Regions from separate parts of the Homo sapiens genome. Here regions 2 and 3 are each linked to region 1. Evidence: fine-mapped expression QTL. A gene starts in region 1. Each other region holds a variant in brackets. All regions are shown on one strand. Distances are from middle to middle.

What was found. PIP is the estimated chance that this variant, and not a neighbour inherited with it, causes the effect.
Region 2: its variant is the best candidate, but not a certain one, in a credible set for the expression of RGL1 in whole blood (TOPMed, PIP 0.87).
Region 3: its variant is the best candidate, but not a certain one, in a credible set for the expression of RGL1 in lymphoblastoid cells (GTEx, PIP 0.55).

The regions. Positions count from the first base shown.
Region 1 is chr1:183,799,460-183,809,838 of GRCh38, reverse strand. It overlaps RGL1 (ral guanine nucleotide dissociation stimulator like 1), which reads right to left and starts at 4,719. Exons shown (of 18, transcript NM_001297671.3): 1 at 4,515-4,719; 2 at 3,354-3,464. The coding sequence starts at 4,541. RefSeq lists enhancers at 2,247-2,296, 3,040-3,099.
Region 2 is chr1:183,897,332-183,907,710 of GRCh38, reverse strand. It overlaps RGL1 (ral guanine nucleotide dissociation stimulator like 1), which reads right to left. Exons shown (of 18, transcript NM_001297671.3): 10 at 9,814-9,903; 11 at 7,475-7,561; 12 at 5,111-5,143; 13 at 2,740-2,861; 14 at 610-699. Among named protein-coding and RNA genes, the nearest start is that of RGL1, 97 kb to the right of the region's middle. RefSeq lists an enhancer at 9,430-9,589. The variant G/A (reference allele first, on the strand shown) is at 5,516.
Region 3 is chr1:183,940,873-183,951,195 of GRCh38, reverse strand. It overlaps COLGALT2 (collagen beta(1-O)galactosyltransferase 2), which reads left to right. Exons shown (of 12, transcript NM_015101.4): 8 at 83-189; 9 at 5,632-5,764; 10 at 6,873-7,000. Among named protein-coding and RNA genes, the nearest start is that of COLGALT2, 92 kb to the left of the region's middle. RefSeq lists enhancers at 4,711-5,553, 5,554-6,396. The variant G/A (reference allele first, on the strand shown) is at 7,642.

The sequences.
Region 1 (10,379 bases):
ACTACAGGCACACACCACCACACTCAGCTAATTTTTTAATTTTATTTTTATTTTTAGTAGAGACAGGGTCTTGCTATGTTGCCCAGGCTGGTCTTGAGCTCCCAGCCTCAAGCAAATTAGCCTGCCTTGGCCTCTCAAAGTGCTGGGATTACAAGAATGAGCCACTGTGCTAGGCTCGGAATTGCTCTTTAATGTCTCTTCCAATCCTAAGATTTTTTAAATTTTGTGACATAATTGAAGTCATTTTTCTTCGAGAATTATAGGTGGGTAAAATTATCCCAGCCAAAGATGTTATTGTAAAGGGAAAATGGGTCAGTATTTCAATAATATTTGGTTTTTCAAAGTTGCCAATATAATCTCACCGTCAATGGGCAAGGATGCAGCTGCACGTACAAGTAAACTGGGCCTGGGACATACTTGGTTGTAGTTTTCCAAACACAGAGTTTTACTTTAAAAGATCAACTGAACACAGAATTTAACAGACAAAATAAAAAAGAATGACCTAAATGTTTTGGACTGTATAATACTTCACATCTGAGGATATGTAATTATTTTGCTCTCCTCCCCAAAATTGAATCTTAATTATGTTTTGAGATCTGAATACTAGAAAATACAAAAATTATGTTCCATCTTTTAGGCATCTGGAATAAGCATTACAGACACGTAACAAAGCTATGCCTATCCTCACATGCTACATAACCTCATACGTATCTTCATATCTTCAATGCACCCTGCTTTAAACCTCCAAAATGGGGAGTTTATCAGTGAGATCATAGCTTCGCAACAAATATCTCAATTTGCAGCTCAAGTTATCATTCTAGACATGAAGAAAAGAAAGTTACATCTCTCCAGTCTTGCAACATTAGGGAAAAGCACACCCAAAGCATCCTCAGTCTTTTGAGCCAATGTTCTTTTCTACTACTATGGAAACAGCCTTAAGGTCCCAGGAAATTCTTCACAACAAAGAGCCAACCATCTGGATTTGAATCTGGTGTTTACCACTTCATAGCTGTGTGACCCTGGCAAACAATTTAACCTCTCTGGGCATTAGTCTCCTCATGTTAAAAAAAAAAAAAAGAGAGAGAGAGAGATCATCACAACACCACCTTCCTCAGAAGGTTGTTGTCATATTGCAATAATTTCCTCACCTGACCCCACTCTCTAGTAACTCTGAAACTAGTTACTTTGAAGAATTTTGAAAGGGTACTGGAATACAGGAAAACAAACATGGGGAAGCCACTCAGTTCTAAAGAGAAAGGTTTGTAATTGCTATGGCTCAATGGGTTGAGTCACATTTAATTAAGTCTGGAATTTTCAAGGACAAAAACAGAACTTCCCAACAGGACACCTAAGACAAGAAAACACGTAGATTAGAGCTGGAGAGCCCCTAGGAACTTGCAATAAAGGAGTAGGCTGGTAGCAGTAAATCACACTTTGTTGAAATGGGGGCGAGGGGGACAGATTCCTCCATCAACTAGAGCCAATCTTTTCACATTATCCTCCTTCTCAGTATTTCATATCTACTGTTGAATCCAGGGTGAATTAACTCTGAACTCTGTATAAATTTGAGAACACTGAGAGAAGGGAGAGAGAAGAAAAGAAGTGAAGTCTAGTGAAGAGAACAGTCAGTGGGGATTACTAAATAACTCTGAGCATCTAAATACATGACAGTTTGTAGATGTGGGGCCTACAGAGTGAACCCCTCCATTTCCAATGACTTACTCATAACTAATGTTGTATATGGCTGAAAACTAAAACAGTCACCCAAGCAAAGTCAGTCTCATTAGAAAGAGAGGAATAACCTGATACCAAAAAAATGTAATGACCCTTTTGAAGACAACTGGTTCAGAAGTTGTGAATCATTCTGAAATAGCTAGAGGCCAAACCACATGGACGCCACATTTAAATAAAATACATACACACAACCACCAAAAACAAAGTGATGACTTGTCAGAACTCTAGTTCTGCTTTCCCTATCAGGTCTGCTAGTGATATACATAATTAATTTTAAAATCATATTCTGAGTAAGGTAGGTACTTGGTAAGTGAAGACCTCTAGTTCTCACTGGAAAGCTCCTATCTTTCCAGACCACACCTGCAGATGTCATTAACAATTTCTGGCCCTCATGGGTGATACCTTGGCCCAAAGTACAGTAGCAGGAAAGGCCTGAGCTGAAGCAGCTGGGGAAGCCCAAAGCAATGAATGCCTGTGTCAGCAGACTCATGGCAGAGGAAGTGATTGCTGCCGGCCATGGGCCACCATCCTGCCTTAAACTCCCTGGAGTTACAAGTCACACGTTACCACTACTCTTAACAGGAGGCCCTGTGCAATTTTGTGTCCTATCCTCCTTCACACTCCACCTTTGAATGCTGCTCAAAATATTCTGAATTTTCAGAGACTCCAAGCCGCTAAAGATGGGATGCAAGTGCATAAATCTTCAACACTCTGAAGCCCATCGGCTAAAATAAGGCCAGCCAGGTGAAATCACACTCCACCCCCTCTATTCAGCCAACCATTATTTTCTTTCTCAAGGCTTTTTGGGTCGCCTCTCACCGCCTGGTCTGAGAACTACTTCTCCTTCCAGATCAAGAATCCCTTCATTCTTCCACATGTTTGACATTTGCCCAAGTAGTGATCCTGTCGCTGAGCTTTCCATTTCTCATATTCGCTTTATTTGGGATGTGTTGAAGGATCTACTAGGTGATACCTACAAACTTGCATGACCTCACCCAATATTTTACAATCTCAGTGGAAAAGAGTCCTGTTTACAGAAGCAGCATTTTTCCAAAGGCCCACCACTCTACACACAAAGTAGTGGGTACTAAGCATCCATTTGCCTCCTCCCAAGATATAGAAAAGAGATCACAATAGGAAATCTACCACCCCTCAAAGGATGCAGACTTGGAATGCTCTGTCTCCTGAGCAATCTGGGTACCTCCTAGAGATATAGGAGCAAGGCAGACGCTGACAGCATCAATTGGGGGAGGGCAGAGAGAGACAAGGGTGGCTTCTGGGCAAAGCTGCTTATGGCTCTTGTCTAAGAGAGTGCTGCTCTCTGGGCCTGTATTCTGTGTGTCATTTTCTGCCACTCCACCCCCAATCTATTTGCCAAAGACCTCAAGATGTTTCTAAGAGGTTCTGAATTATTGACAAACCTAGGGAAGATGCTTTTGAAAACATTAAATACAAAAAGAGACCTGTTCAGCTAGTGCAAACACTTGGTCATTAGCATTTTCCTTTTTAAAGCGAAAAGAGGAAAAAAAAAAAAGCCTGCCTCTGTTAAATAATAATGATATTCACAGAACGACAGACACTGAAATTCCAAAGTTCACCATCTCGCCAGCTTTACTCACCCCTAGCCATCTTGCTCCTTTATTGGCAGCCTGTTGAATCTGGACTCTTTTGAGGGTGACATGGTAAACAGCTCCTTCCTCTACCTCTTCACCCCAGTCCTGAATCGAGCTCTGCCAGGGACGGGATAAAGAGAAAGAAAAAGAGTATTTTTTTCCTCTCTGCTAACCACAATCTATCCCAGCTGCCTTGCTGCTTACAACAGCACTCAGGGCACAAGATGGGCTGTTCAAAATAAATATTACAATCCGCAATACAAGACACATTTTGATAGAGGGAATGCTGAGATTTTCTTGGCTTGCAGTCCCTTCCTGTGGTATCAGGATCCCCTGACTTTTCCATTTAGTTATTTCTCCTAGACTTGCTCACATATCTTAAATAGTTTTGTTTTGAAGTCTTTCTTTTTCTTTACAAAGAAACTAGATTAGTCCTGATTAACTTGTCCCCCTTAAGTGAAAGGAAAAATAATTCTTTGTAAAAAAAAAAAAAAAAAAAAAAAAAAAAAAAAAAAAAAAAGAAAAGAAAAGAAAAAGAAAAAGAAAAAAAGAAAAGAATAAGTCTGTACTTTTTAGAGTGGCTCGGTCATTGAAGAAACCAGATTTTAAACTCAGACACAAACAAGTGTTTAAAACGCCAAGAGTCCTCACTCCTTTGGAAGTGAAGTGGTTTGCTTGTCTTTTCTCCTCATTGTTTTGGAGCCCACAAAGTTAGCGGGGGTGGAAAGTTTTTATTTCCGTAAAATAATCTGGCAAGTGCAGAAAAAGCAACACATCATCAGGCAGCTTCTACTAAAATCTGTGCAGCGACCCCCTGGATTTCCATGTCCCCAGCTAAACCTGAGGTTTGTGTTAAAGAGCCGCTGGGACGCAGAAGCGCTCCGCGGTTCACCCACACTAACAGTTCTTTTTCCTTCAAAGTTCTCCCCTCCTGACATGCATCTGCCCCAGACACACCACAGGCAATTGCTGAGAAAGTAGGTACGGTTGAAAGGGAGAAGACACGCAGAGAGAGAGGAATACAAAGCGGAGTGAGAGAGCTTTAGCTCACAAGTATGGAATCGGATTGCTCCGTTCACTCCGAGGGAGTCCAAAACACGCCCAGCGAAAGCGGGAGAAGATTCCCCACCAGAGAAGCCTCGGGAGAAGGCAGAGAGCTCTCGTTACCATTTTAGCTTGCCAAAGCAATTTCATTCTCAGTTTTCTCTCCGGTGCGCGAACGCTGCATGATGCGCCCTGCTCGGAGGCCAACGCAATGTCTGCTGGGCTCAGCCCCGCGGCGCCTCGCCCCGGTCCCGGTCCCGAGCGACCGCAGCGCACAGACACGCGCCGCGCTGCCCCCGCCGCCGCCGGTGCGCGCGACTCGGGCCACAAAGGGAGCGCGGCGAGCGAGCGAGCAAGCGAGGAGCAGACTCCTCCCCACGCCACTCCGTGATGTAAGGCTTTCCTGTTTGTGCTTGTGAGCACACTCTCCCTTTCTTCAGTCCCATGGATAAAGTCAGCATGAAAGCGTTTCTCCAGTTCTGAAGGTGATTGGGAAACAACACTTTCAAGTTTATCAGGTTTTCCTGACGGTCACCAGGTGCCAAAATAGAACTGAGTGTGGGATGGAGGATTTGTGTGTGTCTTCTTCCTTCGCTAAAACAATGGAAGGAGAAAGTCCAAAAAACTTCCATTATCTGCCTATTATCTATTTTGATTTTAGAATAATTAAGTCAGAATGACCCCAGTGAGAGCCGCAATACTAGACGCCAGGAAGTTTTTCATTAGGACAGAGGATAAGGTCAGAGGACACCCGGGTATTCCAAAACCATGCCCAGGGGCTATACCCTCTCCTGCATCAGCACACTGCCAACAGGAAATCGCGCTGGGCTTTTCACCACCCCAATTACCCAGTAACTGGCCATTGGGGGTGGGAAGGGAACAAAGCAGGGTAAGGTTTTGCTAGGACTGACAGTGTCCTGGAGGTTCTGTGAGTCTTTGTGAGTAGCCACCATGGGTTGAGTTGCCTGTACTGTAGGGACACAGTAGGATCATAGCCACAGGGAAAAGTTCTTCATCAGATGACTACCAGCAGGAGTTTTATCATAATGGAAAGATCTGCTATAGGGATAAAAGATTATTACATTTTTTTAGATCCAGTTTTAACAAGTCAACAGCAAGAGATACCAGATAATGCAGTCAAACTTGACACCTGCCAGAATTCCATGCAAATTGCAAATACCTTTAGGGCTCATGTCTTTCATACTATTCACCCTAAATGAATTTAATCACCTTCAAATAAAAAAAAAAATAGGTCTCCCACTAATTGCCATACTATGACATAAGCCTGGGTTTTGGTTAATGGTAAATATATCATGAGCTGACAATTTAGCAAATCAAGTGTACTGATGTTCCCAGGAGAGCAGAATAAATGACAGCAAGGGCACATTAAGCAAAAACAAAAGGATCTGTGGACACTTGAGAACATCTACAAGTCATTCAGCCAGGTTATCCCCATACAACCAGAACCTAAGGGCACCATCACTGTATAGAGAGGAGATGCCCTTTTAGCAAGCTGAAGTGGTTGTTCTATAATTTAAAAAACAAACGAACGAAAAACACATAGACTAAATCCTTCTATGATGATCAGGGCAGAATGTTGCTGGGAACCAGAGGAAAATCATGTGAAGGCCCTACCTCCCTGCTTGTTAAGCCATCCTCAGGAACCCAGGCCCACCTCTAGAGGACCTATTAGGTGATCTTGGACACCACGAAATGCAACTGAGGACAGTTAAACAACCTGTAAGATTAACTTCACCACTACTTTAACCTGATTTTTGGCTACACATTTGGCAGTAACTGAAATATTTCCATTTCAGGGATATTAAGCAGTTTCTTCAACCTCACTCTCCCAGGAAACCTTCCTGGACAGGGCGGCTTAAATTCACAAGGCCCCACTCAGGTTTCAGAGCTACTCACCTTTCTCTGTACTCCAATTCCCTGGCTGGCCACCTAGTGTGTAAAGGGAAAAGAACTAGCTTCAAGCCAAGTGGATACAGCTTCACATCCAGCCTTGCAGTGAGTGAACCTGAATGCTACTACCCTGAGCCTTAATTTCCTCATCTGCAAAATGGGACAACCATCTACCTGAAAGAGTTTGAAAGAGATCAAATGAAATAATGCATGCAAATCATCAAGCACATGGTAAGTGATCCAAAAAAATTCCACTGCCTCCTTATTGTACTTCCTCCCAAACCATATTTATCCAGACTCAGTGAAAAGCGTGTTATGTATGCAACACTAGGAAATCTGAAATGATGTCTTCTCATGGAATTACTTTAAAATTTCAGAGAGGTTTTCCAAGAATAACTATTTGTATTTACACCTCACAATGTATGTAATTTTGTACAAATGCTGTTCTGCAAAAAAAGAGGCAGACTTTATGCTAGATAGAGCAATTGTGTGTTGCAGTTTACAAATTTTTTAATATTCATTTAAAAATATTTCATCAGTAGGCAGTTCAGTCCATATTACCTTATTACCTGTACCTTTGGGTTAAAGTACTCCTGGTCAATATGTGGGAAGACAAACCAGTAAGCCATTTATAACTCAGTTGGTGTTTATTTACCACATTAGCCTTCCCGTGACCTAACAGAGTCCTGAGAGGATAGGTTAAGTTTTGTTAAAAGATCAGGAATGTTTTGTAGTTTTTAGAGAGCAAGACTTGCATCTCTTTGGTTCAGTTTATTCCAAGGTACTTTATTCTGATACTATTGTAAATGGGATTGCTTTGTAAATTTCACTTTTAGATTGTTTGTTGTTAGTATATAGAAACACATTAATTCTTTATTTTGCAATTGACTGAATTTGTTTATTAGTTTATAAGGGTTTTTTTTTTTTTTTTTTTTTGCTGATACACCTAAATAGAAAGACATCCCGTGTTTACGGGTTGAAAGACTTAATATGTTAAAATGTCCATATTATCCAAAACTTTCTGCATATTCAATGCAATCCCTTCCGAAATCCCAAGTGTATTTTTGACAGAAATAGCAAAAATAACCTTAAAATTCAAATGGAACTACGAAGGATCCTGAATAATCAAAGCAATCTTGAAAAAGAAGAGTAAAGCTGGAGATCTCATGCTTCTTGATTTGAAAACATATTACAAAGCCACAGTAATCAAAACTTTATGGTACCGGCATAAAGACAGACACACAGATCAATGGAACAGAACAGAAAGCCCAGAAATAAACCCAAGCATATGTGGTCAACTGATCTTCAATAAGGATGCCAAGAATATACAACAAGGAAAAGATAATCTCTCCAACAAATGGTGCTGGGAAAACATTTGTACAAAAACTAGATCACATGTAAAAGAATGAAATTGGACATTTATTTTACACCATACACAAAAATCAATTCAAAATGGATTGCAGACTTAAACATAAGACCTGAAACTATAAAACTCCTTAAAGAAAATTGCTATAGTTTGGTTTGTTTGACCCCTCATAATCTTATGTTGAAATTTAATCCCCAGTGTTGGAGGTAGGGCCTAATGGGAGGTGTCTGGATCATGGAGGCAAATCCCCCATTAATAGCTTGGTACCATCCTCAAGGTATTGTGTGAGTTCTCACTTTATTAGTTCCAGTGAGAGCTGATTGTTACAAGGAGTATGACCCCCATCTCTCTCTTGCCTCCTCTCTCACCATGTGATCTCTGCATGCGCTGCCTCACCTTCCCCTTCTGCCATGAACTAAAGTGGCTTGAGGCCCTCAACAGATGCAGATGTTGGCGTCATGCTTCTTGTGTACAGCTTGCAGAACCATGAGCCAAATAAACTTCTTTTCTTTATAAAGTACCTGCTCTCAGGTATTCCTTTATAGCAACACAAAGGACTTAGATAAAAATATAGGGGGAAAGCTTTATTATATTGGCCTTGGCAATGATTTCTTGGATATCACACCAAAAGCACAGGCAAGAAAATTAAAATTAGAGAAGTGAAAGTACATCAAACTAAAAAGCTTCTGTGCAGCAAATGAAACAATCAATAGAGTGAATAAATGACCTATGGAATGGGAGAAAATATTTGCAAATCATGTATCTAATAAGGGGTTAATACCCACAATATTTTAAGAGCTTCTACAACTGAATAGAAAAAAAAACCCAATTTAAAAATGGGCAAAACACCCGAATAGATATTTTTCCTAAGAAGACATACAAACGACCAACACATATATGAGAAAGTGCTCAACATCACTAATCATCAGGAAAATGCACACCAAAACCATAATGAGATGTAACCTCAAACCTGTTAAGGTGGCCATTATTAAACACACACACACACACACACACACACACACACACAAAATAACAAGTGTTGGTGAGAATGGGGAGAAATTGGAACCCTTGTGCACTGTTAGTAGGAATGTAAAATGGTGCAGCCACTATGGAAAACAGTATGGTTCCTCAAAAAATTAAAGAGAACTACCATATAGTCTAGCAATCTCAATTCTGGGTATTTAACCAAAATAAATCAAGATCTGAAAGCGATACTTGCACTTCCATGTTCATTGCAGCATTATTCACAATAGCCAAGAGGTGGAAGCGACCTAAATGTCCATCAACAGATGAATGGATAAAGAAAATGTGGTATTATTAAGTATTAAAAAGAAAGAAAATCCTGTCATATGCAACAACATGGATGAACCTTGAGGACATTACTCTAAGTGAACTAAGCCACTTACAGAAGGACAAATACTACATGATCCCACTTATATAAGGTATCTAAAATAGCCAAACTCTTAGAAGCAGGAAGTAGAATGGTGATTGCCTGGGGCTGGAGAGAGGGGCAGATGAGGAATTCCTGTTCAGTGTGTACAGAGTTTCAGTTATGCAAGATGAATAAGTTCTAGAGATCTTTGTGCTTATAGTTAACAATAATGTACTGTACACACGAAAATCTGCTAAATAGGGGAAGATCTATATTTAAGCATTAGTATGTTCTAGGAATAGTTTTGTGTTGCCATATTTGGTGTACACTGACAGTAACAACAGAAAAGTTCTAGCATATAAGAGGAAAGAGGTATGGAAGAGCAACAAACGGGAGAAAAAAAAAATTTCTTGCTTTACAGTTTTACCAGAGCCAATAGATAAAGAGCAAATGCAAGCAGCTGGTGTGCTGATTCTTTAATAGAGTCTGTCTAGAAATGGAAGTATACAATATATATACCCCATTCATTCATTTATTTATGTATTCATTGGTCTCTATGACACCACATTTTTCTACATTTTATTCTACCTCTCTGGCTGCAAGAAGAATTAAAAAATATAAAAATTATGACAGCATGTACTTATGTAGGATGATATGGAGTGATATTTATGTGTCTGGGTAAATGATGGGACATATGGCATATGAGTTTAAATTCCAGCTCTGGATGACTTGCCAACCAAGAGTCTGACCCTCACTTCTCACAGCCTTATTTTTCTCATTTGTCTCTTGTCATGCTTATCATGAGGATTACACGAAATATACTATGTAAAGTATCTGATAGAGTACTTGGAACATAGGAGGCATTGAATAAAAATGTATCTCCTCTCTCTACTTTCACACCATTTCCCTTTAATGTAATTTTGTATTTGTTTACTGCTTTTGGTTTGTAACCTGAGTATTCTTTATACTTTTACCTGGGCAAGATATTATATTGCATAACAGAAAAGTAAGGACAGTGAAAGTATAATGGACACTGTACTTCGAAATAAGTATGTAATAAAAACTTGTCTTACAAACCATATATCTGATAAGCGGTTAATATCCAAAATATATAAGGAACGCATACAACTCAACAGCAAACGAACCAACCTGATTTTAAAAATGAGACAGGGGACTTGAACAGGCAATTTTCCAAAGAAGACTGACAAATGGCCAACAGGTGTATGAAAAGATGCTTAATATCACTAATCATCAGGAAAATGCAACAAAACCAGAATGAGATATCAACACATACCTGTGGGGATGGCCATTATCAAAAAACAAACAAGTGTTGGTGAGG
Region 2 (10,379 bases), 98 kb before region 1:
GAGGAAGCAGCTAGTATGAATGAGAATGAGGGGTGGACAGCAACATTAGAAAGGGTTCTCTCTTGGCACATAACATTTTTGCTAATATTTGAAGGAGCCAGTCATGAAGAAAGAGCATTTCAGGCCAGGCACAGCCAGTGCAAACGTCTTCAACACTGGTGAACAGAGGGCAATGTTGTAAGAGAGGGAAGTCTGCAGGTTAAGTCATGTAAGGCCTAGTAAACCAGGATACAGAGTTTGGGTTTTATTTTAAAATAAAAGCTATAGGGGTTTTTATACAGGAAGCAACATAATCTGGTGTACATTTTAAAAGACAACCTAGCTATTTAGTGGAGAATGAATGGTTGGGTAAGGGGCAGCCAGAAGACAGTGAAGATGTTACTGGAGTGATTCAGGCAGGAGAGAATGGTGATTCACAACAGAGAGGGGAGTGGAGAAGAATGGACTCAGCAAATGCTTTGAGTTCATGACAGAAGGATAAACGGCTTAACAAATGAGCGGAGTGCTCTTCACTTTCACCCTGGCTCAAGGTCATCCTGTTGAATACATCTCCTCTCACGACTCTGATGGCACCCTCTTGGAGCCCCAGAACCCCCAGGGGACACTCACAGGCTGAGTCTCTTCACCATGCTCTTCCGAGGCTTGGGCGAGGTGGTGCTGGCGTCAGCAGCTGCTTCAATCTCACATGACAGGGCATAGCTGAGAAAGAGAAGGGGGCTCCATGAGGTCAAAGTTAGAGAATTGAAAAACACACTTAAATTCACATGATGTCCTGGTTTTGTTTTAGAGAAGGCTCTAATTGTTCAAAGTAAAGATATATACAAACGTTGTCCTATCATAAACGTCAGGGGGTACTGACTTCACGGCCCGATTTGACACATTTATCTTATGTGCTTCCTCCCTCACCTCCACTGGCATATGGATTGAGGCTATTTAGTTCTGCGTGTTTCAAATACAAGGATATATGCACTTTGGCAGCATCAAAAACTAACTCCATTCTGATCATTCTCATCCCACTGCTAGGCCAGTGGAAGAATCTTCCTTCCTCTACTACCTCCCCCTCCTATTTCTTCTCTATTACCTCCTTCCTACTATTTTGTATGTGTGTTTGTGCACATGCACAAATGACTTAGTTTTATCTAAAGAAAATGAAGAGACTTTTGTAATCTATCTGATCGTCAATGAACAGACATAGGCAATTACATTACTGATAAAGATATATATATATATATTTATTTATTTTAGTAGAGATGGGGTTTCACCATGTTGGCCAGGGTGGCCTACAAATACTTTTTTAAATTTTTAATTGCCAAAACTTCCTAAATTAAAAATGCTCCAGATTCAGACCTCTATCTGCCAGGCAGATATAACTGACACAAGCACAAGAGGAATTTATATGTGATTCCAAGTGCCTTTTATGAAAGCTTGTAGCTGTAGACAGTAGATGTATTTCGTTACTGAGTAGGTGGGGAAGGGTGCCCAACATTATACAGCCATCTTCAGAGCTTAGGCTGTAGAGCCGGGCAGACCTGAGTTTGAATCCAAATGCTGTCATTAATTCATTCAAATATTTCTCTAAACCTCAAGTTTTTTTTTTTGTAAATACTTATTTTGCTGTCAATTTCACTCTCCCTTATGATAAACTTCCAAAGAAATCCCCTGGGCTAGGGTAGGGATGGGCCAACTTCTTCTGTAAAGGATCACATAGTATTTTAGGCTTTGTGGGCCATATGGTCTCTGTTGCAACTACTCAACTCTGTCTTTACAGCATGAAAGCAACCATAGATGAGATGTAAATGAACGGGCTGTGTTTCAATAAAACCATATTTATGTAGATACTGAAATCTGAATTTCAAATAACTGTTTCGTGTCACAAAATATTCTTTTTTTGTTCCCCCCCACCCCAATCATTTAAAAATGTAAAAACAGGCAGTGGGCCACATATGGCCTGCAGACCAATCTGCCAACAAGCGAGCAGGCTACAGGACAGGGACGTGCTGAGCCAGCAGGCAGGGCACTCAAGTGAACATGCCTTTCTATGCCCATCCCACTATTTTTAAACTGTTCTTTGTGTCCCTGCCACACCTGAGTTATCACTGTTCCTTCAAATGCCAAACATGTCAGGCCACCAAGCTTTTGCTTGTGTTCTCTCTCGGTCTGGAATGTTCTCTTCCGGTTCTTATGGCAAAATCTTGTTTCTCCTTTACAGCCAGCCTAAATATTAATGCCTTTATATTTTCCTTATTTTCCCCAATTCTTCCCATAGGTTTTGTAGGAATGTAGTTACCCATCATATTTCAAAGTTTCATGAGTCTCTCAACCCCTCTAGGTTGAAAGCTTCCTGGAAAGCTACCATCAATTAACAGGAATGACAAACACAGTGACAGTGGTGGTGGTGACAACGCTGAGGACAAGCATTCTAACAAAGCATTCCCACATAAGATCTTAGTTACGCCTCACAAACATTCTACAGATGAGCATCCTTAAGATAGGGAAGAACAAATGACTTGTTCAAGGTTACAAAGATAAATAAGTGGCCAAGCAAGAGTCTGAAAGTACATCTTGATGCTATCAACTCAGCCTTTCCTGCCACACCATGCGCCTTTGAAAACCAAGGACCTGGAACCTAGCAGCTGCTCACTAAATAGTTGTTGAATAAATGACCCAGCGAGGTATTAAATGCAGCATTTTTCTTGCCAACACTTCAGTTCTACCCCGATGAACGACAGGTGATCCCACCTCTCCTCCTCTGTCAGGAGCTGCTGCCTCTGGAACCACTGGATGAACTTTTGGTCTGGGGTCATGCAATAGCTGTTGCAGGCAGACTGTAAGAGCTTTATCTGGGCAATCACTTCAAATTCCTAAAGCAGACAGAATACCAAAAATTAAAAAAAAAAGACTGAATAATAAGGCCAACCAAATATAGAATCTTTCAACATGAAAATATACCACATTAGGATAAAAGATGAAGAAAACCATCTAGGAGGATTCTGAAATACTGCTTCCTTAAAAATAAAGGAGCTAACTAACTCTTAAAAATTCTAACTAGAACTCTCCAAAGTCCTTGTATGCTTTAATTTTTAATCCTCTTTTCTCCTTGAGAAAGCAATTTGTATAAAACAAGCTACCAAAGCAACCCAAACTAGTCACTACGTTAAGTTACAGTGGCTTCCTTTTTCTCTTCTTCACTTTCATCCTTGGAATAGAAAAATGATTTTTAAGGTTTTAAGTACTTCATAAAATATATTAATTTCTATTCATATTTCTTAAAAAAAAGAAAAGAAATACTTTAAGTCAGGGAGCTCCCAAGATCCCCATCCCCATCTTCCTCAACCTTTACCCCTCAATAAATAAGTTTTGGTAGGGCTGAGTATCTAAACAGTCCTAGGTCTCATAAAATTGAATGTTTAGATTTCCTGAATCCTTGGGTTTTTACTACGCCACTAAATCATTTAACTAAGTCTTTTAAAACTCACAGAGAGGCAAGTACATAATTATGTTGAAAATTATTTATACTTATTTGGATGTTTCAATAAAAAAAATTTAAGTCAGCAATGGGTATAAGCTTTAGGTTTAGGTTTTACAGTCAAACTTTCCAGAAGTTTAATATCCTAGTCTAAAAAGGAAAGAGATTACCAACCACAGTTATTCTGAAGTTAAATGACAGAGAGGGGAACTGAGGGGGCAATAACTGAATTTATTATCATTACAGGACATGACAGAAGTAACTCAAGAACTGGTAGATTCTCCAAGTCTCAACTTGCCATCCAGTGACCTCGGCCCTTGGTCTCAGTATCCTCAAGGAATATTTACCATCATGCTAAAGAAAAAAGTATCGTCTATATGGGACAAAAAATTTACATTTGTCCAGGTTAGTATCTTGTTCTGATAAGCCCAGCTTTGTTTAGCTCCTCTATGCCTTTTTGGTTTTAACTTCAACGTCATTTTCTCCTGGAAGTTTCTCTGGCCCTACAAGTTGGAGATAGATACCCCACCTATATACTTCTCTAACACCCACTACTTCTGCTCACAAACCCTTTTCAGGTTGTATTATAACTGCCTATTTATTTGTCTACCTCTCTCCTGGATTGTGAACTTTACGAGGGCAGGCAGCTCTGTTCTTTCTCTGCTGTAATTCCCAAACCCCCCCCATGTTAGGTAGACAGTCAATATTTGTGGAATGTGAAAGTACTGAAAAATAACGAGAGTACTACAGGGTGAAGTTATTATTTTGCTCACTCATTTTCCTTTGAGTCTTTTAAATATCTATTTAAATATGCCATTTGAATATGAAAATCACAGAAAAATTTCAAGACTGTTTTATCTTGAATAGCACAGTTCAGAACTGTGCTATCCACAGGAAGAGTGAAATTGATGTTGAGCACACCTTCCTATGCTGACACGAAAGGGAAAGAATAACTACCTACACCGAAGACGAAGGCCATTTCCTTTCCTCTCTCGAGTATACCCACGAGAGTTTACCATCTTTATTAACTCTTCTATGTCATTTACTCATCAGAAACCCCTTATCCTTAATAGGGTAAACCTGGTTTTTATTTTAATTGGCAAATTAAAAAATTGTTTGTATTTATGGTGTGCAACATGATGTTCTGAAACATGTATATACCGTGGAATGGCTAAATCAGGCTAACTAACATATGCATTACTTCACATATTTATTTGTGATGAGAATACTTAAAGTCTACTCTTAGTAATCTTCAAGTATAAAATACATTGTTATTAATTAAGTGGCAAGCCTGCTATTGCTGAAGCTAATTGTAAAGGAGATAAGGAGTGGGCAGGGAAGAAATGTGGGCTTTGGGGCATCAGGACAGGATGAGAACCCTGGCTTTGCCACCAAGAGATTCTCGTCCAGTAATTTAATCTCTTGAGTCCTAGCTTCCTCACCTTTGAATTGAGGATGATAAAACCTACCTCATAAGGCTAGTGGGGGATAATGTATAGGAGAATGCCAAGCAAAATGGTATATGATAAACGTTCAGTAGGTGCTAACTCATTTTTTTCTGCCTCTACAAAAAAACTTAAGTCCCCATTTCTTTCATTTTTTTCATGCTCAGACAAAGGAAACACAGCCAACAACTCTACTTACCCTTCTCCTTTTCTCAAAGTTTATCAGTCCACCCTAAAAGAAATTTTAATAAAAAGAGTGAGCAACCAAGCTACTTTAAAACACAGCCATATGTTGTCGTAGGTCACATTAAAATAGATCAAAGGGGTGATAAAGTCACAATTATCAATGATCCTATAATTACGACTACTGTGGAAGAAGAGAGTCCTGTTTTGCTTTTAAAAAAAGTATTATTATAAGGCAGGATAAGCAGAAAGCCTTCTCTTGAAATGTCTGAAACCAACTAAAATAGTAATGATAAATAATTACAAATCAGGATCCAAAGACACTTGCAGAACCAGTAAAGATAAAAGCTTGAGTAAATATTCCATTACACTTTTTTCCCTTACCAAAAGCAACTAAAACAGATGGTCATTGACTCATACG[G/A]TTTATCAAAAGGGAAGTCATTTCTCCATAGCATCATGAAAAGTTAAGTTTCAATTCTTCATCCCCTCAGCTCCTATTCTCAGTAGGCTGAATTTAACTTCTAAATCTTTGGTTACTCCCCAGAATTCCCCAACACTGATGGGTGTTTCCTGAGATAAGCTGAGAAAGAGGATGTGAAGAGACATAGAAGTCAGGAGATGCAAAATGAATAAATGTGTCCACAACACTGTGGCAAATCCAAAGGTAGGTAGATCTATGCAAAGTAACTTCTACTTCTTCTAATTAAGATACAATAAAAGCAGGCTGGTTGCATATGATAACAAGGGGGTAGTATATACTGAAATATGCAAGCAATCTTTCAATTTCATTTCAAATTTGAAATTTCTTCTTCACTTAATATTTTATTGCTGCTACTAACAAGTTGTTTATCTGAGTTTTCATGTATTTTCCCTTTCAGAGAAGATGGGGGATGAAGGGAGTAGGGGTAGAGAGAGGGGGAACAGAGAGAAAGAGGGACAAGGGGACAGAGAGAGAGAGAGACAGAGAGAGAGAAAAATACCCCACAGCAGGCAGCAATACAAAAAGAAAAGCATATTTGAAAAATCACAAATTTGACTGACTCTCTACCCCACCAAGTAGTCCTACTCAACATTAAAGTCTTGTGGGGTTTTTTGTTTGTTTGTTTGTTTGTTTTTGTTTGAGACCGAGTCTCACTCTGGCACCTAGGCTGGGCACCTAGATCGTGCAATGACACGATCTCGGCTCACTGCAACCTCTGCCTCCCGAGCTCAAGTGATTCTCCTGCCTCAGCCTCCAGAGTAGTTGGGATTATAGGCACCTGCCACCATGACCGGCTAATTTTTGTATTTTTATTTATTTATTCTTTTTCTTTTTTTTGAGATGGGGTCTTGCTCTGTCACCCAGGCTGAAGTGCAGTGGCGCAATCTCGGCTCACTGCAACCTCCGCCTCTCGGGTTCAAGCAATTCTTCTGCCTCAACCTCCTGAGTAGCTGGGACTACAGGCATGTGTCACCATGCCCGGCTGATTTTTGTGTTTTTAGTAGAGATGGGGTTTCACCATGTTGGCCAGGGTGGTCTCGAACTCCTGACCTCATGATCTGCCTGTCTCAGCCTCCCAAAGTGCTGGGATTACAGGCGTGAGCCACCACACCCAGCCTAATTTTTGTATTTTTAGTAGAGACGGGGTTTCACCATGTTGGCCAGGCTGGTCTTGAACTCCTGACCTCAGGTGATTCACCTGCCTTGACCTCTTAAAGTGCTGGGATTACAGGCATGAGACATCGCGCCCGGCCTTAAAGTCTTGTTCAAACCCAAACCCACTCCTTCATGAGCCCTGTTCATCACAACCCCTCATAAGAGTTCATTGTGGGCCGGGTGCAGTGGCTCAACGCCTGTAATCCCAGCACTTTGGAAGGCCAAGGTGGGCGGATCACCTGTGGTCAGGAGTTCAAGGCTAGCCTGGCTAATATGGTGAAACCCTGTTTCTACTAAAAATACAAAAAATTAGCTGGGCGTGGTGGTGCACGCCTGTAATCCCAGCTACTTGGGAGGCTGAGGCAGGAGAATTGCTTGAACCCGAGAGGCAGAGATTGCAGTGAGCCAAGATCGTGCCATTGCACTCCAGCTTGGACAACAAGAGCAAAACTCCATCTCAAAAAAATAATAATAATTGTCATCTCCCATGTTCTCTCAATGCATTTGTTTGAATTTCGATTATTACTATCGTTCACTGCTTATTTTGATATATTAATTACTTCCACTGGATTTTGAGCCACTTCTGGTGTTAGTCTTTGGTGTTATTCTTTGTATTCCTCCTAACAGCTAGCACAATGCCATGTACTTTTGGACCTTCAAAAGATACTAAGAGAAGTTAACTACTCTTTAGGGTATCCAGTGGGAAGGCTGCAGGCCCGATCACACCACCCACATGGAACTCACCTCGATGTAGTCCTGAAGGGCAGTGTCAAGCATGGTCAGGTCAGTCAGGAAGGTGCCCAGGTAGGGCACAGTTCCCTGCATCACACCCTGAAGAGCATCCAAAGCAAAACTGTCTTTATTGTCATTGAAAAGTTGAGGGGTTTTAGGAATCTTCAAGCTGGAGCAAATGGATGTATTCAAGGCCTAACTGCGGGCCAGTGGTGCTAACCTCCATGAATAACATTTTTTAAATTTCTACACAAATAGGATAGAAACTCCATGATCTAATATCTAACTTGTGAAATCATGAAAACCAAGCCTCAAAGCCAGGAGATCATACACATCTGTTCAAAAGTGTTGACTGTGGGGTTTATGTTTTGCTTTGGCTCAAGTGAGAAGGATGTCTGTTCTCTTTCAGAGCATGGGGACATTCCTGGTAGTTGGGGATGGCACTGGATAGTCATTGCCTCACCATTGGCTGTTGTACACAGAGAAGTATGTACCACAAAAGCATGGGGCATCACTATTAATATAACCCCTTGGGCTAGACTTGGTGACTAACTCTCAAATAATAGAGGAGGGAAAGAGAAAAACAGTAACTTCTGAGGAAGAACCTGGCAAACTCTTCCTTAACCAAGTAATAAAGATCAACATCATTCGTGTCACCATCAACATGACACCAGATGTCACGCTGAAACCATTCATTCACTCCTTGATGTGATGTGATGAGAAGGGCACTTTACTCTGTGATATTCTTTCTAAAAATCCAGAAGCTCAGTCTAATCACTAGAAAACAGCAGACAACCTCAAACTGTGGAACATTCTACAGAATACCTGGATAGACCCCTTAAGACAACCAAGGTCATAAAAAACAGTCAAGAAAACACTGTCGTAGACCTGAAGAGACAGGGGTGACAGACAACAAAATGCAGTTGGTATGCCGGATTGGGTCCTGGAACAGATAAGAAGATACTAGTGGAAAACTGGTGAAATCCAAACAAAGTCTAGATTTTAGTTAATAGTATTATGCCAGTGTCAGTTTCTTAGTATTGACAAATGTGCTATGGTTTTAGAAGATGTTAACAATGAGGGAAACTGCACTTCTAGCTTTGCAGCTTTTCTGTAAATCTAAACTTATTCCAGAATAAAAAGTTGGAAATGAAGGTGGAGGCACTTCTACCTACAACTGCAGGGATACACTATATTCATTTCACTAAATCTCCTTTAAAATCATCTCTCTTCTTCAGTAAGCCACCAAGGCACTAAACATCCTAAAGGAAAAGTAAAAAGCGGTCCCCATGGATCCCTTATCCTAAATCTCATCAAGCCAATTCTGGAAATTTTGGCAGAACACAAAGCCTCAAACAGGGTAAAGCCAGGCTGCTTGACATGAGGCTGGCTGCTTCCTCAGCCAGAACTGCTTTGTGAGGTTCATACCAAGGAGGGTTTTGTCCTTCAGGAACTCACTGTCAGCTGCAGTGTGTCCTTCCCATTCTGTGTACAAGGTCTCATCCTGTACTAAAATAATCTATTTTTTTGGTAACAGCTATTTTTAGCTTGTCTTTGAACAACCAAAAAAGTTTGTAACACTGTGAATGTTTTATAGGCTTCATGTTGCGGAAGAGTCCTATCATTCAAAAACATTTCTTACTTACGTTGAGCTTTCCAAAGAAAGAGAAAACCCTCTTAAAGCAGAATATTTAGAGTTTGTCAGTCTCTAATCTCCTCCCTCTGGTCTTCCACACTTTATGCTAACAGTCAGAAGTTTAAAATGAAGCTAAAGTTGATAATACCTATCTTTCAGTCTTCAGGAGGGAGGCATGATGCTCCTTTAAATATTGAAAAACTATAAAGATTTGGTTAGCCTTGGGATTAGTAAGGAGAGCTGGGCAATGGCTAGATTAGAACAAATGAAAAGATCTCTGAGTACAAGGACCAGGGCCCTGTGGAGAAGACACTCTTTCTCCTTGGTCACCATGTATCAGAAGCTGACTACAGTAGGAAGCTCAGGAGGCCCTCAGGCCAAGGTGGAGCAGCTTCTAAGTGCAGGAGGGGGCGGAAGAGACTGCAAGAGGGAGGAAGTCGACCTGCTGTAGACTCCCCCTCACCTTCAGAAAACAACTTTGCCAGAAAACAGGATTTGCCACCCAGTGCTTACTTCCTACTAGTTGAATGAGGGTAATCATCTCTCTCCTATAGACCTCCCAGGGCTGCTGAGAACAAATGGGGTAGAGAATGGGAGACCCTTTCTGAAAGCCTGGGTGCCCTGTTGACTGAAGGTGCCAGTGCCATGTGGGAGCCCAGACGCACACGGCCCTTCTCCTCTGTGAGCTGTCAGGGAAGACGAGGGCCAGACATACCATGTCCTTCTGGAGCTGCAGCCGCCTCTGGGTACGCTTCTGGTTTTCTTTCACACTGCTGTCCAGGTTTGCAAATTTTGAGGTTCCTTCCTGAGAAACAGAAATGCACACAGAGGGAATTGATACAGGATGCCACAATGGTAAGAAGTAAAGAGGCATCTAGTTTCTCGCACACAACCCTGCATAACTCTCGCTCGGAACACCATGCAAAATGAAGAGGCCTCCAGCAGGCTCTCACGATGTATATTATGCAAATACTTGGCTGGCTTGTTGCAAGTTGCCTATTTATAACGAGGCTGGTGGACTTGGATTTTCTTGTTCTTCCCCCAACTTTGTTTTTTTTTTTTTTGAGACGAAGTCTCACTCTGCTGGGAAGGCTGGAGTGCAGTGGCGCAATCTCAGCTCACTGCAACCTCTGCCTCCCAGGTTCAAGTGATTCTCCTGCCTCAGCCTCCCGAGTAGCTGGGATTAGAGGAATGCGCCACCACCTGGCTAATTTTTATATTTTATTTTATTTTTTGTTTTTAGTAGAGATGGGGTTTCGCCATGTTGGCCAGGCTGGTCTT
Region 3 (10,323 bases), 140 kb before region 1:
AAACATTTACTAAACTTTTCAAACAGCCTAAAAGAAGACTTGAGTAATTTATGTGTCTTTTCCCTTTTCCTTCTTGCATTAGATTTTCATGATAAACCTCAAACGCAGAAAGGACAGGCGGGACCGGATGCTGCGCACACTGTATGAACAGGAGATTGAGGTCAAGATTGTCGAGGCTGTGGATGGAAAGTGAGTTGGGTTTCTTCTCCCATTGCAGATGTGATTGGAGTGTGGATGTGTCTTCTCTGACAGAGAGTTAGTCCCAGGTGGGGCTCTAAGTCTCTTCGGTCATTAGAGGATAGTCTTATTTTCAAAACGGCCACCTGTAGTAGCATTTAAGTTAATTTCATCCTGTAGAGCAGGCCTGAAATCCACTCACCAGCCAGTGGTCTTTGGTCTTCATTACACTGAAGGCTCACATTGGATGTGATTGTCCCGTCTCTGGGGGTTCTTGCAACAGTTGTGGTGGTTTTCAGCCTTCTGTAGTGTAACAGAAGGAATGTGTTCAGAATTGTGTTCAGAGCTGAATTAGAGCATAAAGTGCTGAAACTTGGTCAATCTGAAGAAAATAGATGGAAAATGCATAAAGGTGTACATTTCCTGTTGCATGAGATGCCTGCCACAATCTGCCTGGACCGATCATAGTGGCCACTTTTCCTGGAAATATGGCAGGAAAGTAACACAGGGAACCTAGTTAGATCCCTTCTTTTTTTTTTTTTTTATTTTGTTCAGCTTTGCCCTTTTATTTGACACCCTAAACTATTTCAAGGCATAGATTTTTATAAAATGTGCCTTTCCATGTTATATGTTGGTTTAGAATATCAGTAGCTTTGTTTTCTATTTGCATAACTCCAACTAAGGAGTATGGCTAGCAGCTGTTGAAGTTTTTATGACTCCCTTAGAGAATCTCATCAGTGTTTCCCAAAGTGTGACCTGGACACTCACATCAGAGTCCCCACGGATGGTTAAGGGGACAGCTCCCTCAGTCCCATCTCAGACCTGCTGAATTATGCTCTCTGAGGCTGGACCCAGGATCTGCATTTAAGAAGCCTCAAGGTGATTCTTAGACAGGATTGCCCCATAAAATACTGGATAGCCAGTTAAATTTGTCCCAAACATCACATGGGGCTTGGTTATACTAAAAAATTATCCATTATTTATCTGAAACTTAAATTTGACTGAGTGTTTTGTGTTTTTCACTTCCTAAATCTGTCAGCCCTATTCTTGGGTGCAGTAGAGTTTAGGAACCACTGCTTCAAATACCTCCAAGAACACCAGTCCCATTCATAGACCACATGGACCAGGGAAACTAGTTGAGTAGTGAGAGTTCTTTATATATCCTGGATGCAAGTCCTTTATCAGATATGTAATTGTCAAATATTTTCTTTAACTTTATGCATTATTGATTGTCACAATTTCATGATGGTATACATTGAAGCAAAAGAGTTTTTCATTTTGATGAAATCCAATTTATTTTTTGTTCTTGTTGCTAGTAATTTTAGTGTCATACCTAAGAATCCATTGTCAATTTCAAAGCCATGAAGATTTACTTCATGAAATTTTCTTCTGAGAGTTCTACAGTTTTATCTATTACATTTAGGTATTTGATCTATGTTGAGTAAATTTTTGTATATGGCATGAGGCAGGGATCCATATTCATTCTTTTGCACATGGTTATCCATTTGTCCCTTCACCATTTGTTAAAAAGACTTTCGTTTCCCTCGTAGAATTGTCTTGGCACCATTGTAAAAAGCCAGTTGCCCATAAATGTAAGGATTTATTTCTGAACTCTCTATTTTATTTGATTGATCTATATGTCTATCCTTATGCCAGTACTATACCGTCTTGATGACTGTAGCTTTGTATTTAAGAAGTATGAGTCCTTCAATTTTGTTATTCTTTTTCGAGTTTGTCTCAGCTATTCTGGGTCCCTTACTTTTTCCATATGAATTTTAGAATTAGCTTGTCAAGTTCCACAAATAAAGAAAACGGCAGCTGGGATTTTGATAGGAATTGCATTGAGTCTGTAGATCAACTGGGAGAATATTTCCGTGTTAACAATATGAAGTCTTCTGATTCGTAATCATGGAATGTCTTTTTATTATTTAGATCTTCTTTAGTTCTTTGAATGATGTTTTGTCATTTTCAGTATACAAGTCTTGCATTTATTTTGTTAAATATACTCCTAAGTATTTTACTCTTTTGATGCTATGGTACATGGAACTATTTCCTTAGTTCTATTTTCAGATTGTTCATTGCTAAATGAATAAGAATACAATTGATTTTTGTATATTGATCCTGTATCCTGCAACCTTGCTGAACCCTTTTTATCAGTTCTAATAGTACTTTTTCCTTTGTGTGTGTATATTCCTTAGGATCTTCTACATACAAGACCATGTCACATGCAAGTAGAGATAGTGTTATATGTTCCTTTCAAACCTGGATACCATTTATTTCTTCTTCATGTCCAACTACCCTTGCTGGATCATCAAGTACAATGTTGAATAGAACTGTTGAGTGCAGTTTCTTGATTTGTTCCTGATCTTAGAGGGAAAGCATTCAGTCCGTCACTGCTAAGTATGATGTTAATTGTGGGTTTTTCACAGATGGCCTTTACTGGGTTGAGGAAGGTCCCTTTTAGTCCTATTTTGTTGAGTATTTTTATCATAAAAGGGTATTGGATTTTGTCAAATGGTTTGTCCGTGTCTATTAAGATGAACATGTGACTTTTGCCTGTTAATATGGTACGTTACTTTGATTGGTTTTCACATGTTAAACCAAACTTGCAACCCTGGGATAATCCTGGGACCCATTTGGTCATGCTGTATAATTCCTTTTATAAATTGCTGGATTCTCTTGCTAGTATTTGCTTGAAGATTTCCACATCTATATTAATAAGTGATATTGGTCTGCAGTTTTCTTATAATGTTTTTGGTTTTGTATCAAAATAATATTGGCTTCATAAAATCAGCTGGGATGTGTTCCCTCCTCCTCTTTTTTTTTGGAAGTTTGTGAAAGATTCGTGTTAACAATTTTTAAACATTTGGCAGAAACCCCTAGTGAAGCCATCTGGTTCTAGGCTTTTCTTTATGGAAATTTTTTTTATTACTAATTAAACTTCTTTTCTTGTTATTTATTTACTTTCTATTTCTTCTTGAGTCAATTTTGGTAGTTTGTACCTTCCTATCAATTTGTCCATTTCATCTAGGTTATCTAATTTGTTGCCATACAATTGTTCATAGTATTATCATATAATCTTTTTTACTTTCATAAGGTCAGTAGGAGTGACCCCTCTTTCATTCTTGACTTTAATAGTTTGAGTTTACTTTTTTTTAATTCATCAGTTTAGGCAAATAATTGTCAATTTTGTTGATCTTTTCAGAGGACTGACTTTTGGTTTTGTTGATTTTTCTCTATTGTTTTTCTATTCTCTAGTTCATTTATTTGTACTGTAACCTTTATTATTTTCTTCCTCCTGTTTGCTTTGGGTTTAATTTTCTCTTTATCTAGTTTCTTAAGATGGATGGGAGGATTATTATTTGAGATATTCTATTTTACTAGAGACATTTGCAGCTGTAACTATATCTCCAAGTACTATGTTAAGTGTATCGCATAAGTTTTGGTATGCTGTGTTTTCATTCATCTCAAAATATTTTCTAATTTCCCTTGCAATTTCTTCTTTGACCCATTGGTTAGGAGTGTATTGTTTAATTCCACATTTCTGAATTTCCCAAGTTTCCTTTGGTTATTGATTTTTAATTTCAAACCATTGAGGTTGGAGAACATACCTTGTGTGATTTCAATCCTTTTAAGTATACTGACACTTAATTTATGACCTATATGGTCTTTATGGTCTAAAAAATGGTATTTCTTAGAGAATGTTCTATGCACACTTGAAAGTGTGTATTTGGCTATTGTTGGGTGGAATGTTCTATAGATGTCTGCTAGGTCTGATTATTTTAAGATATTATTCAAGTCTTCTGTTTCCTTGTCTTCCTCCTGCCTAGTTCTATTATTGCAGGTGGGATATTGATGTCTTCCCCTATTATTGTTGAATTGTCTGTTTCTCCTTTCAATTCTTCCAGTTTCATGGTTCTGAGGTTCTGTTAGGTGCATATGTATTTATAATTGTTATGCCTTCCTGATGGATTGACCTTTTTTTTTTGAGATGGAGTCTTGCCCTGTCACCCAGGCTGCAGTGCAATGGCACGATCTTGGCTCACTGCAAGCTCCAGCTCCCAGATTCACACCATTCTCCTGCCTCAGCCTCCCAAGTAGCTGGGACTACAGGCACCCACCACCATGGCCGGCTAATTTTTTGTATTTTTAGTAGAGATGGGGTTTCACCGTGTTAGCCAGGATGGTCTCGATCTCCAGACCTTCTGATCTGCCCACCTCGGCCTCCCAAAGTCGTGGGATTACAGGCGTGAGCCACCACTCCCGGCCCAGATTAACCTTTTTATCATTAAAAAATGTCCTTCCTTGGCTCTAGCATGAATTTTGTCTGAGATTTATTTTGCCCAATATTAGCATAGCTCTGCCAGCTCTCTTGTCATTGCTGATTATATGGTATATCTTTTTCTATTCTTTTACTTTCAACCTATTTTTGTCTTTTAATCTAAAGGCTGCCTCTTATAGATACCACATGGTTGTATTAATTTTTAAAACTTACTATGCCAAATTCTTCCTTCATTGCAGTGTTTTATTCATTTGCCTTCACTACATTTTTTTCCAGATCCTTAAGGTCAGCCAGAGGTGAGAGACTAGGGACTTCTCAAGTTTTTCCTGGGCGTGTGGACAGCCCTGAATATGCCTGGGGCCTTCTAGATTCTCAGGGATATTTTGGAGCAAATCAAACTCCCTATGGACCTCTTATTCCTTGGTTTTTCCTTTTAAGTTTTTTGGTGGGCTTCTTGTTAGCATCAGCTGATAATGCTTCTCAAACAGCTGTAATGTTAAACAGTTGTTGCTCATGGGTTTTGACAAATGACCTGCAGATAGTGCTGTTCACAGAAAATGAACTCTGAGTCAGGTCAAATCAAGACAAGCTCTGAGAATGTAGCTTTTCAAGGAGCTACTAGACAGGTTGAATAGAGATTATTTTCTGGGGGCAGGTCTTTAAGGGAGTCTCAGTCCATTTTGTCCCTGCCAGTGGCTTCTGGGTTGGTGGGGTTTGCCGCTCTCTTAGTTGTGAGGCTACTGGTTTTCAAGGCTTTTGTAGGGCTGGGGTGAACAGGTTAGGATTAGGGCAGCTGTGAACTTCACAAAGCTCACTGTGTTAACAGAGATTCAGCAGTAGGTCTTGATCAAACACTCCTTGGATTATTGCAGTACTTTAACTAATTTCCATAGGAGTGTACTTATTAAATCTTGTCAAAAAACTGATGATGCTTAGAACTATGTTGGGCACTATGAGGGATACACAAAAATATGATACCCTCTTGTCTTCCCAGACCTCATAATACTAGTGTGACACATTAGCCTGGAGGAACTTCTAAGGAATAAAGGGAAGCCTCTCTGTCTTTGTCTGTGTGGGGGAGGGGTGTTTGCAGAACTAACTCTCTCTTTCTCTGGCCTTTGTGGTGGGGACCTTTGACTTGTTAATCTCCAGACGTGTTTTATGTGATGCAGGGCACTCAACACAAGCCAGCTGAAGGCACTGAATATTGAAATGCTGCCTGGCTATCGAGATCCCTATTCCTCCAGGCCTCTAACAAGGGGTGAAATCGGCTGCTTTCTCAGCCACTACTCAGTCTGGAAAGAGGTAAATAATGCTTTATTCAGATTGCAGTTTTATGATGAGGAGAAAGGAAAGCAGGCTATCGTAGGTGAGTTAGGGCCAGATGTAAAGTGAGCCCGCAACTGTTCTGGAAATGTGCATGAGAGCTGCTCCTGCCTTGTGTCTCCCTCTGACCCAAGACCAGCAACAAAGGGGCAAGGAGGAGTAGCTTTGGTGCCACTTGGGGTGGTGACGGGGGAGACACCCATGTCCTGTGTGCCACACTCTTATTAATTCATTATCATCATTAGCAGGAATGCCTTCTATTATACCTATTATGACATCACTTATTAAGTGATTTTATACAAGAAATCACACAGAAGTCATGTGAGGTGGGTTGGGAAGGACAGACCACCTTTACCGAAGAAGAAATTATTAAGTAGCTTGACCCGGTAAGAAGTGGCAGAGCCAGAAGTGGAACCCCTGTCTTACAGATCAAGACATATCTGGAGCAGATATTGGTGTGTGGGGTTCCTGATAAACAGTCAGTTTCCACAACCAAAAAGAAAGTCCCTGAAGAAAGGCCCCTTGAACACTTTCTCTTTTAATGATCCAGTCTATGCCTGCCTTTGTTTTCTTTAAACTTTAAGTGAAATGTGATAAATAGGTATAAAAAGATATAGATCAAAAGATACAGCTCAGGGAAATTTCACAAACCAAACAACACACCCATGTTAATCAGTACACAGATCCAGAAGCAGGTAACCAGCATCCCACAAGCACCCCCCCACCCCGTACTGCCTTCTGGTCATCAGTCCCCAAGGGCAGTCACCATCCTGACTTCTAAAGGCATTGAATAGCTTTACCTTTGTTTGTACTTTCCCTTATATGAATGGAATCATGCAGTATGTGTACTCTCCTAACATGACATTTAGGAGATTCACCTATAACGTTGCGTTTAATTGTGATCATATATCCTCACTGCTGTGAATATTCCAAAGTTTATTATCTATTCTACTGTTGATGGCCATTTGCTTAGATTCCAGTTATGAATCTGTGCTACTAGACTCGTGACTTTTTAATACTTATTTATCTAATAAAAATTGGGTTTCAAACTTTTCATAGGGTATCTTCCTACTGATGACTTTTGCAGGTAATTGATCGAGAGCTAGAGAAGACTCTTGTAATTGAAGACGATGTGCGTTTTGAGCATCAGTTTAAGAAGAAGCTGATGAAGCTGATGGATAACATTGACCAGGCTCAGCTGGACTGGGAACTGATGTGAGTGACAAGATGATCTTACGAGAGGGCTCTGAGAGGCACTCAGTCCTTTCCAATGCGCAGAGAGCCCCACCTCCACAGCCAGTAGGAGATACAGCTTAAGCTTCCACTTATCTAGTTTTCTTTCCATAAATGTTCTCAGAAATAAAAATGGGTAGAGGTTAGCCACTGGATTTTGCATCCTTCTACTCTTCAGGGTGGGAAACTGTGGAAGATTGTCTGAGACCTGGAGTCGGCCTGCAGATCAGGGACCTTCAGACAGAACCAAGGTGTGGCACTGAGCACTTACTTAGGAGCACAGCAGAAATCCCACCCTCAATTAACGTGGCACATGGAGTGGGTGTGAAGCTGGAGAAGAGGCCATTTATTCAAGCTCTAAAGTCCTGTGTCATATTTAAGACTCAGCTCCCGGGACAGCAGGTTGCCTCTGCAGCTTCCGAGAAGGTGGGAGGTTAGAGGGTCAGCCAGGGAGCTCCTCTGTTGGGAAATGGGGCTGCACAAACATGAAGAACATGGACAACTAGATTTGGGGAAGGGTCTGAGGCTGATGCAGGAAAACCAGGCTCACCAAGGGAGTGCTGGCTCTGAGCTGACATTTAGTTAATGTTCTTTGTCTACTCTCTGGGAATTGAGTGGCTTCT[G/A]CTTTTTTCTTCCCTTCCCTTTCATTTTTCCTTCCCTTCCCTTTCATTTTTCCTCTCCCTCTCTCCCTTCCTCTTTCCTTTTTCTTCTTCCTCCTCTGCCTCCTCCTTTCTCTCTCTCATTTTCTTTTTAAAACAAATGACACTTTCAATTTCTCTCCAATGAAGCAGAAAGTTCCCAAGCATTGTGTTTGCTCCCAGCTGTGTGTCAAAGGCAATTCATCAACTCTGAGCCTGCTTCTTTGGAGCAGCTGCAGCAGAGGAGCTGTCCCTGCTTCTCCCACCCACAGGCGGTATTTAACTGTGGGCCCAGGTGGAATACTTGTTCCCTCAGAAAATGGGCCACTCTGAGCTCAGAAGAAACCTAGCAATGGCTCAACTAATGCGTCACTGTGTAATAAGACACCTATGCCCTGTCAGATTTCAGTCATGTGGTCATGTGGTTTGGTTTGGCATTCTGCACAGTCCCTTGAGATCACTGTTTCTTCCTATATCCTCCAGAAGTCGCTGCACTTCAGCCTTTCTCAATGGATGGCTCCGCAGCCTGTGGTTAAGGCCTCACAGGCCTGGAAGCTACTTGATGTCCACGTGACTTGTATAAAGGCAACTTCACTTAAGCCTCATAATCACAGAAGACTGAGCCCAGAGAATCTAAGGTTTAGAGCTGGCATACGTTCCCGTTCACATGTAGTTCGGTGGGTGCATTTCTCAGGACAAAGTACCGACAGATGCAAGAAGGAAGAACAGTTGTCTTGATAAGGATACAGGAAAAAAATGTTTTCTAAATTTCACAGGTTGATCAAGTCAAAATATCCCCTTAAAATCTATTATATAGTCTTAAAGAACTGTAACAGTTTTAAATTGTACCTGTTATTTTCTAAAACAAAAAAGAAACAAATGTTACTTAAACCTAAAACATGAAAGGTAATAAGCTGTTCATGATTGCCACATTACATCTTTCCAGGAAAAGAAAATAATAAAAGGGAAGAATAGAACAAGTCATTGGAATCATTGAGGGAGTGTTGTTCAATAGAAATATAATGCAAGCCACATATGTCATTTTCAGTTTTCTAGTAATCACATTAAAAAGGTAAAAATAAATTAGACTAAATTAGTTTTAATACATTTTATTTAACAAAAATATCCAAACAGTATCATCATTTTGGTATGTAATTAATATTTTAAAACCATTAATGACATAGTTTACCTTCTTTTTTTTTTTGTACCAACTCTTCAAAATCTGGTATGTATTTTACACTTAGAACACCTCTCAATCCAGAAGCTAAATTTTCAGCTGTTTAAGTAAACTGGGCTGGGCGCAGTGGCTCACGCCTGTAATCCCAGCACTTTGGGAGGCCGAGGCGGGTGGATCACGAGGTCAGGAGATCGAGACCATCCTGGCTAACACGGTGAAACCACGTCTCTAGTAAAAATACAAAAAATTAGCCGGGCATGGTGGCGGGCTCCTGTAGTCCCAGCTACTCAGGAGGCTGAGGCAGGAGACTGGCATGAACCCAGGAGGCGGAGCTTACAGTGAGCTCAGATTGCACCACTGCACTCCAGCCTGGGCGACAGAGCAAGGCTCCATAAAAAAAAAAAAAAAGTAAACTGTCGTCCTACCAAAACAATGAACTTGTTTCATGGAAAAAATATATATATTTCACACAGCTTCAACATTTAAAATTAAATTAATTAAAGTTAGAGCATTAACTCAGCACCTCTATCACTCTAGTTCCTCTCAAGTGCTCGATAAGAGTTTCCCTTCCACTGGATGAGACACGAGAGAAGCTCAGACTCCGTAATCTGAAGAGAGAGTGGCTGGGGATATATGTTTGTTGTTCTCAGAAGAACTGAAGATTGAACATAGACTTGTTCTACAAATCCTGGGATGCTTTCACAAGGGGGAATCCCTTGAATGTTGAAAGAGATTGTTTTAGGGCAAAATAGAGGAAGTACTGCTTTACCTGGCAGGCAAGAAGGAGGCAACTCCTCAGGTTGCTCCAGTCAAGCCCAAATCAATAGGTTCCGGACAAAAGTAATGGAGCACAGATCCATGGGTAGACTAGGGAAGATGGGAGTGGCCAAAGGTGCATCCTGTGTTGTAGAAGTTGTTCACGGAGGACGGAAGGTGCCTGGGGGGCCTTTCTCAGAGCAGCATGTCTGGGAGGAAGCCTGGCCACAGCTGGACGAGTGTGAGGCAGGAGAATGCCTGTCAGGAGCTGTCATTCATCCTCCCCAAAAGGAACCCCTTAGGGCCACTCTTGGGTTCCCAGAACCTTCACTGCAGACTGACTCTTTCCCCCAGCTTATTTGGTCCTGTGTTTCCCACCAGCACTCGGAGTGCTGTGCAGAAGGCATCCAAGGCTGACACTCTGGGGACCTGAAGACAGCAGCCTCAGGATTCTCCCATCTGGCCTTTTTTTGTGCCTTTCCAACCTCTGTAAACACAGCTGGAAGCCCCATCCCATCTTTAAGAAATGATCTGAAAGATCTTTTAATCTTACGACATCTTACTTTCCGTCTTGAAAACCGTCCACTAGGCAGGAATAGTGGGGGTGTTGATAAATGGAGCTAGCAAAATGGCCCCAGTGATGGCAGATGGCAGTCCTGACTGGCGATTGGATCCACTTTTGGATGTGATACATCATTTAATGACAGACAGAGTCAGTCCAGGATTTCAGAGGT